Linked DNA regions of Homo sapiens: region 2 is linked to region 1. The links come from fine-mapping of genetic effects on gene expression. A gene starts in region 1. The other region holds a variant in brackets. All regions are shown on one strand. Distances are from middle to middle. Region 1 holds the start of HSDL1 (hydroxysteroid dehydrogenase like 1). Region 2 overlaps MBTPS1 (membrane bound transcription factor peptidase, site 1).

Region 1 (4,000 bases):
GATCCAACACTCTTCACCATCATGTCTGTATTTATGCAGTAAGAATTAAAATATTCAGAGTACCCCACTCCTAGGCAGATACCCAAGATAATTAGAAACTTTTGCTCACATAAAAACTCCTGCTTGCATGTTCACAGTGGCCTACTCACAACTGCCAGAAGGCAGAAACAAACAAAATGTCCATCAACAAATGAATGAATAAGCAAAATGTGGTGTTATCCACACAAAGGAGTATTATTCAGCCATAAAAAAGCATGAAGTACTGATACATACTACAACATGGATAAACTTTGAAAACATTATGCTAAAGGACAGAAACCAAATACAAAAGGCCGTATGTTGTATGTTTCCACTTGTATGAAATGTCCAGCATAAGCAAATCCATAGAGACAGAAGATAACTTAGGGCTGCTGAGGGACAGGGGGAGAAAAGAGGTATGACTGTTAATGGGGTTGGGGTTTCTTTTGTAGGTGATTAAATGTTCTGGAATTAGTTACTGGTGATGGTTGCATAGCATTGTGACTATAGCAAGAACTACTGAGTTATACACTGTAAAATGGCTAAAATGATAAATTTTATGTCATGCGTAAGTCATTTCGATTTTTGAAAACCTACTTTAAAAAAAAGTAGCACCAATATGTTCAACTCTGTTGCCCTAGAATATTCCAGCAGTGATTAAAACCACAAACTTGGCCGGGTACAGTGGCTCATGTCTGTAACCCCAGAACTTTGGGAGGCCAAGGCGGGCAGATCACTTGAGGCCAGGAGTTCAAGGCTACCCTGACCAACACAGCGAAACCCCGTCTCTACTAAAAAAAAAAAAAAAAAAATTAGCTGGGTGTGGTAGAACGTGCCTGTAATCCCAGCTACTCGGAAGGCTGAGGCAGGAGAATCACTTGGGCCCGGGGTGCGGGATGGCGGGCAGAGGTAGCAGGAGCTGAGATCGCAGGCACCATTGCACTACAGCCCGGGCGACAGAGCGAGATTGTCTGAATCAATCAATCAATCAACACCCTCCCCCTCCCCCTCCCTCTCCCTCTCCCTCCCTCCCTCTCTCTCTCTCTCTCTCTCCTGTGGCGGTCAGAGTAAAATTGAGAGCTCACTTTATGCAAAAGACTCTGCTAAGTGCTTTATTCCTATTGTCTCACTTTATTCTCTCATTAATCTTATAAAGCGCAGTCAGACTCTCCCGTTTATAGATGGGGAAATTGAGTCTTATAGATGTAAAGTCGCACACCCAAGACCCCACAACTCAGAAAGGGGCTACCTGCAATTCAGATGGAGGTATAGCAAGGCGCAGAGTCCTGTCCAGGGAGCCCACTGTGAGACCCCCCGACTGCCTCGCAGTCACCTGTACACATCATGTTGGGATCGCCGAGGGGCGCTGCAGCGATCCGGTTTCTGGGGCTGCGTCTGGGTGGCACGTTCAGAACGGGGACCTGCCTGGTTCTTCTTCCCAGCCCTTCCCCTCCAGCACCCGGCAAGGCCCAGTCAACACGAGCAAACTCGGAAATCCTGGCTGAACCCACGACCGCTGCATATTTCCATTTTAGAAAAACACGGCAACAACAACTCAAACCAAATCGTTCAGAAATGAGAATAAAGAAGCACCGACAAAGGAGGCGATTGCTGGGGCCGCTCGGGGGAGGAGCCGGGTGAGAGGCTGCAGGGAGGGCAGGGCATGCGCCGGCGACAACGGGGTTCGCGGTTTGGGGGGCAAGGCCCGGGGGAAGAGAGAGAACAGGGGTGCAGCGCCGCGGCGGGGGGCGTGAGGATGGAGCCGGGGGAAGGGGGGCTCTGAGATGTGAAGGGGCGGGGCTGGGGCTTTTTGGTCTGAAGGAAGGAGTCTCACGGGACGGAGGGACGAAGATTTCCTGGGGTCAGGGGCGCCAAGGGGCTTCGGGGCCGGATGCAGCGGAGGGGGCCCGGGGCCTGGGGGGCGTGGTGAGAGCTCAGAGGGGTCTCGCCAAGCAGCCGGCTGGCGCTGAGGGGACCGAGGAGGGGTCTGGGGCGAAAGGACCGCGAGAGGGCGCCCAGGGCGCGGGGGGCGCGGTACCTGCAGGCCGGCAAAGTCTTCCAAACCGGTCCCGCCAGACCCGCGCGGCCGCCGCCCCCGTCTCGGCCGCCGGAGCTGCTGCCGCGCCGCGCCCTCACGTGACCCGCGTACGCGCCGGGGGCGGAGCCGTCTCAGACCCGCCCCCACCCCCCGGCGTCCCCAGCGCGCCGGTCCGTCCCGAGTGCGCGTGCGCAGCGGTTGCCTGGGCGACCGGGGAAGCGTTGGGCTGTAAAGACTAGGGCGCCAGCGGCTGGCGAAGAAGGAAAGAGGGTACTCTCTGGCTGGGCTGGGGCCGTAGCGACGTCCGCCGCGAACCTGGGCCCCCCAAAGCTGCGGGGCGTTCGGTGTCGCCGAAGTAAACATGCACCCTGAGCCCTCGGAGCCTGCGACAGGTGGTGCAGCAGAGCTGGATTGCGCGCAGGAGCCCGGCGTGGAGGAGTCTGCGGGTGACCACGGGAGCGCAGGCCGAGGGGGCTGCAAGGAAGGTGCCGACTGCCCCCCAGGGAGGGCGGTGGGCGAGGGGCAGACACGGCTAGGCGCTCCAGCCCCCTTCCCACACCACATACCCGATCTTCACAGCCAAATAATAACAATAATAATAATGGTAGCAAGCAACGCTCTGCAGTAGGGGCTTCTCTCGCCATTTCGTACTGAGGAGGAAACATACTTAAGAGGTTACAAAACTTGCACCAAACAGATAACCCTCGGCTAGTCAGTGACAGAAGAGACTTGGCCGGGTGCGGTGGCTCAACGCCTGTAATTCCAGCACTTTGGGAGGCCGAGGCGGGCGGATCATCAGGTCAGTCAGGAGTTCGAGACCAGCCTGGCCAACATAGTGAAACCCTGTCTCTACTAAAAATACAAAAAATGAGCTGGGCGTGGTGGCGGGCGCCTGTAGTCTCAGCTACTTGGGAGGCTGAGGCAGGAGAATCGCTTGAACCCGGGAGGCGGAGGTTGCAGTGAGCCAAGATCTCGCCATTGCATTCCAGCCCGGACGACAGTGGGAGACTCCGTCTCAAACAAACAAACAAACAAACAAGCAAACAAAACCCACCAGACTCAGGCCCAGACAGTCTGGGTCTCCAGAGCCCCAGCCCTAACCCACCACGCTATTCTCCCTGGTCCCAACTTTGATGCTTTAAATGTGTCCCTTTATTGCTATCACTATGTAAGATCAAAGGCTTTCTCTCCCTCCAGACTGCATGTTGTGTCAGGGCAAGACATCTTGATTGAATTTGGAGTCTAGTCCAGTGCCTGACCTAGGGTAGAGAGTCCGAATGAAGACTTGGTTCTGGGGTCAGTGTGTGATCCCCTCACCAAAGTTTGCCAGAATGGACTTGAAAGATAACCTTCATGGCCAGGCACGGTGGCTCACGCCTGTAATCCCAGCAATTTGGGAGGCAGAGGCAGGTGGGTCACCTGAAGTCAGGAGTTCGAGACCAGTCTGGCCAACATATTGAAACCCTGTCTTTGCTAAAAACACAAAAATTAGCAGGGCGTGGTGACGTGCTCCTGTAATTCCACTTACTTGGGAGGCTAAGGCAGGAGAATTCCCTGAACCCCGGAGGCAGAGGTTGCAGTGAGCCAAGGGGGAGGCTGAGGCTGCAGTGAGCCAAGATCACACCACTGCACCCCAGCCTGGGCAATGGAGCAAGACTCCGTCTCAAAAAAAAAAAAGGAAAGAAGGAAGCCTGGCTTCAGCTTCTGCTCCCACTAGACTTGGTGCCCTAAAGGAAACCTTTTAGTGATTACATTAAAAAACCACTTGATTTGTGTTCCAGTTTCTGAACGCAGGCAACAAATAAACCAGCTGATTTGTGTTCCAGGCAACAAATATATCTTAAGCATCAACTGTCCAGATGAACCTTGTATGAGGAGCCATAGGGAACTGGCATTACTCAGTGGAAAGACACTGGTCTTGGAGCCATTGACACTGGGTTCAAG
Region 2 (4,000 bases), 76 kb before region 1:
CAGAGAGTGGAAAAGAATTAAACAGAAGTTTAAACCTGAAGTATCTCATATCTAAGATTAACAAGGAAAGACAATGAACCCTCTATATTATTAACAGTACTCATACTCAATAAACATCTTACTCTATGAGCAACTTTCAAGAACCTCTCTACTGTATAAAGGACTATTTTCTTTTTTGTGTTTTATTTTTTCTCTTTGAGATAGGGTCTCTCTGACACCCAGGCTGGAGTACAGTGGCTTGATCTCAGCTCACTGCAGCCTTGGCCTCCCAGGTTCAACCGATCTGCCCAACTCAGCCTTCCAAAGTGCTGGGATTACAGGCGTGAGCAACCGCACTCAGTCGAAAGGGCTTTTTTTCTAATCAAGCTCTCTGAATGTGTCTGTGCCAACTGGAAAGACCACCAACAGGTCAAATCATCACTTAAGTATTTGCTGGGTAGAATTTGATTCCCCAAAAGTCTTATCCAAATACCAATGCGTATCAACAGTACCTTGTGTTTTCATCATAAAACTTCACTTTTCTCATAACAGAAGTGTTGTACCAGTCACTGAAGATGACGAGCGAGAGGCCGTTGTCCACGTCCCTCCGGAGCTTGGCGATCTCTTCAGGGAAGTACTCCTCCTCACTGTCCACCATCAGCAAAGTGCCTGATGAACAAAGAACCAAAGCTGGGAACTGTCACTTCTGAATGACAGGACACCACCACGGCAGAAACAGTGTCACCAGGTACATGTCTCAGGTTACTGACACCTAACAGTCTGGTTTGTGCCACCCTGTACCACTTTAAAAGGGACTAAAAAGTAGAGGACCAGGATCCAGCAATACACAGCGACTAACTGTGATCTGATTTCACTTGTGGTGCTCAGGATAAAGATTTTCATTCACTTGAGAAGGAGCAAAATATATAGCAGAGCTGCTTTTAACTTAAAGAAAAAAGAGTACGAATGTCCCTGTCTCCAATCAGCCTGTCTTGTATTTCAGCTGAATGTCACACCGCCACCACCTGTTTCAGAGCCTCGCCCCAGGCTCACCCAGCTGTGGGGCCCACGGCGCATACTCCCTTGGTAGCTATCACTGAAAACTGGGATTCACTCCTCAGACATTTAACAAACATCCAAAGTGGGCGGAAAGACCATCTGGCTAGCACAGCAGTGCCACTTACCATACTGACTGGCATCAAAACACGTGAAGGGGGCCCCGAGGACCTCTACAAAGTAGCCCATGCTTCTCAGATGCTGGTACATATCCCTGAAATTGGTGTGGATGTGATCACCATTCCTGAAAAACAATAGGCCACAGCATTAAAATGATCGATCTTTACTGGCAATAAAGGCATATCTGGCCACAGGGCCGGCTCTGCAAGAGCACCATGCCATGGCCCACAGAGAAGGCCTGGATGGCTGGCCCACTGGCACAGGCATCAGCTTAGGAGACCTGTGTGCTCTGGTCTGGACACACGGAAATGGCTGATAAGAAGAAACCATGTGCCTGGCAGGTGCATGAAAGAGACAAAATGACCAGAAGAAATGGCCAAAGACATGTTTAATGTGTCCTGGACCATCACTGTAGCAGTCGCGTTCAAGTAAATTGCTGGCAACCATCTGTGTCTGACAGAAGAGCTTAGCAAATAGCCGCGGGAGTGCAGGGACGCTGGAACAAGCCACGCAGGGCCACGGTGCTAAGACAGCGGCACAGCTAACTGATATCACTGCCACTGGTCAACTTTCCATCCCCGTCCCTCCCAAATGAGCTCACTTTCCTATGGGACACTGTATACACCCTCTAGGGGTCACCTCATTCTCACCTCCCAGCAGCACAGACTCCAGGTCCTCTCCTGCAGGCCAACGGGCTTGCCTTGGTCTATGAACTTCCCACCACTTCCTGTCTACCCGTCTCTGGTCTGAGCCCCTCCAATCTGGCTGCCAGAGACATCTTATTTTAAAAGGCAAGTCTGACTCTGTAACTATCCTGGTCACATCTTTCAATGCTTCCCCTTCCCCTACTTTCAGCATGGAGTTCAAAC[G/T]TAGTCCAAACATAAAAGCAGAAATGAGCTTGGCTAATGCACCAAGAGAAAGTCAGCCCAGCTGCCCTGCAGGGAACAGGCACAGGGAGAGCGGCTATGGGGACTGCGGGGGAAGCAGTGCCAGCTTCTGAAGGGCTGCATGGGTCACACCAGGGGGCTTGGCCGGGTGAGGAAGTCAGAATAGGCAGTCACTGGAGAGCTTGAGGCAAACTGTGTTAGAATTTGTTTTAAGATTACCAAGGTTGCCAGAAGAGGAGTGGAATTTAGGGCAACAACAGCAACAGCAGTGGCACTCAGGAGCTGCTGATGTGGTCCAGGCAAGAGATGACAATGGCATGGACTAGGGTGGGAGCAGGGAGAAGGCCAGAGATGGAAGGATCCAGGATGCAGTTTGAGGGTAAGACTGACAGCTTTGCTGACTGGCGCAATGGGAGAAGGAAGGAAAAGAGAACTTCAAGCTTTTTACTGCATAATCATACTTGTGAAAGTTTCAAAAGAGAAGTCAGGCTGCCCTAAGTGCATGGCAAAAGCCTGAACATCTCAGCGTCATCAGAGTCCAGGCTCCACGAGAAGCTGAGCAACATCTTTCCAAGAGTTGCGGGAACAGTGGTGCCTCCTCCCACCACGGAGGCTGGGGAGGTGAAGTGCATCCTGTGAGGTGCTTACCAGTCTAAAGGGTCATTCTTCATCCTTAAATTATCCCTGGGGAAATAGCCAGGTGGATAGCGGAGGTTGTGGTACTGATCCCAGAGAACTCTCTTGCTTCGCGGGGGAGTAGGAATTATCTTCACCTTAATGGGGAGCTTTACTGTTGAAGTCTGTTCTGCACCATTTTTTGACTAAAAAAAAAGAAAAGAAACTTGAAACGCCCTCATTGTGCAGAAAGAAACTTTCAGGTTTGAAAACATCATTTCTATTTATCAACTTAACCTAAATAATTTGAACACAAGAATTTCCAATAACAAATGTCTGATGAAAGATTCATGTATCATAACTAAGTCCATTCAAACACTTAAAGAGTTTAACAGTTAAAATTTAAGGCATATTCTATCAATAAAAACTACTAGAGCCTCATAGGATTAACCCTACATTTCCTTTTAGAGAATGTATATTTTTGGTGCACTCCTTTTGAGCTTGAAATCTGGTAGAAAACAGTCTTCTCTGCTGTTGTGTGGCCACAGAACGGCAAGCCCTAGCACTCACTGACTGAGCTACTTCTTCAAACTCCAGCTGCTCCGGAGGCCCTGGAACCATCAATTGTGGCCATCGAGGATAAGCCTATCTGTCAACTGTACTTCCAATGGAGACCCCAGGCATTTGGCCTGTCCCTCCCTGAAAGGTGATGTCAAACAGCTAAGAAAACAAGCCACTTTCCCGCATATCCCTACCTCTGTCTCTGCTGGGGAAGCCACAGTGATCATGACATGGCCCTGAGCAATGCCTTCCCAGGAAGCCGCTTTCTTGGTCACAGAAATGGAGATGGCCAGGTAGCCCGACCAAGGCCATAAGACCGAGGAGTAGGAGAAGGCAACTTCAATGTTGTCTCCGTTCTGTGGCAAATAGGGCTGCCAGTCAGGCTGCAGGAAAAAGAAATCAGACAAAGGCTAAAGTGAAAAGCTCCAGGAGAAAACACGTGGAAACCAGAAAAACTCAATTCTTACCAAAACTGGTTCCGAGAAATACTTCACTAAATAGGGAAAAATAAAATTTATACACAGATACTAAGTAACTACAACCAAAGTAGCCTATGGACTGCCTCGGACGTATCACTAGAAAAGTCTAGAAACCACTATTTCTGACAGCTTCCAATTTTATGGAGACATTTTTTTTCTATTATAAAACAGGAACTTTTGTCAAAAGTTCTTTGATGAAAAACTTCATCTGACTAAGAGAACTTATATAGATGAAAACTCTCAGATTTAAGGTTATTTCCCAATTAGTTGTATGCTTTAAAAAAATCCCATTAATTGAAAGCA

The links. PIP is the estimated chance that this variant, and not a neighbour inherited with it, causes the effect.
Region 2: its variant is fine-mapped to the expression of HSDL1 in whole blood (INTERVAL, PIP above 0.99).

The regions. Positions count from the first base shown.
Region 1 is chr16:84,143,024-84,147,023 of GRCh38, forward strand. HSDL1 (hydroxysteroid dehydrogenase like 1) reads right to left here and starts at 2,154. Exons shown (of 6, transcript NM_031463.5): 1 at 2,057-2,154. It overlaps DNAAF1 (dynein axonemal assembly factor 1), which reads left to right and starts at 2,285. Exons shown (of 12, transcript NM_178452.6): 1 at 2,285-2,541. The coding sequence starts at 2,418. RefSeq lists silencers at 1,579-1,628, 1,679-1,728, 1,889-2,338.
Region 2 is chr16:84,067,176-84,071,175 of GRCh38, forward strand. MBTPS1 (membrane bound transcription factor peptidase, site 1) reads right to left here. Exons shown (of 23, transcript NM_003791.4): 13 at 3,413-3,601; 14 at 2,691-2,863; 15 at 1,164-1,279; 16 at 492-648. Among named protein-coding and RNA genes, the nearest start is that of SLC38A8, 26 kb to the left of the region's middle. The variant G/T (reference allele first, on the strand shown) is at 2,025.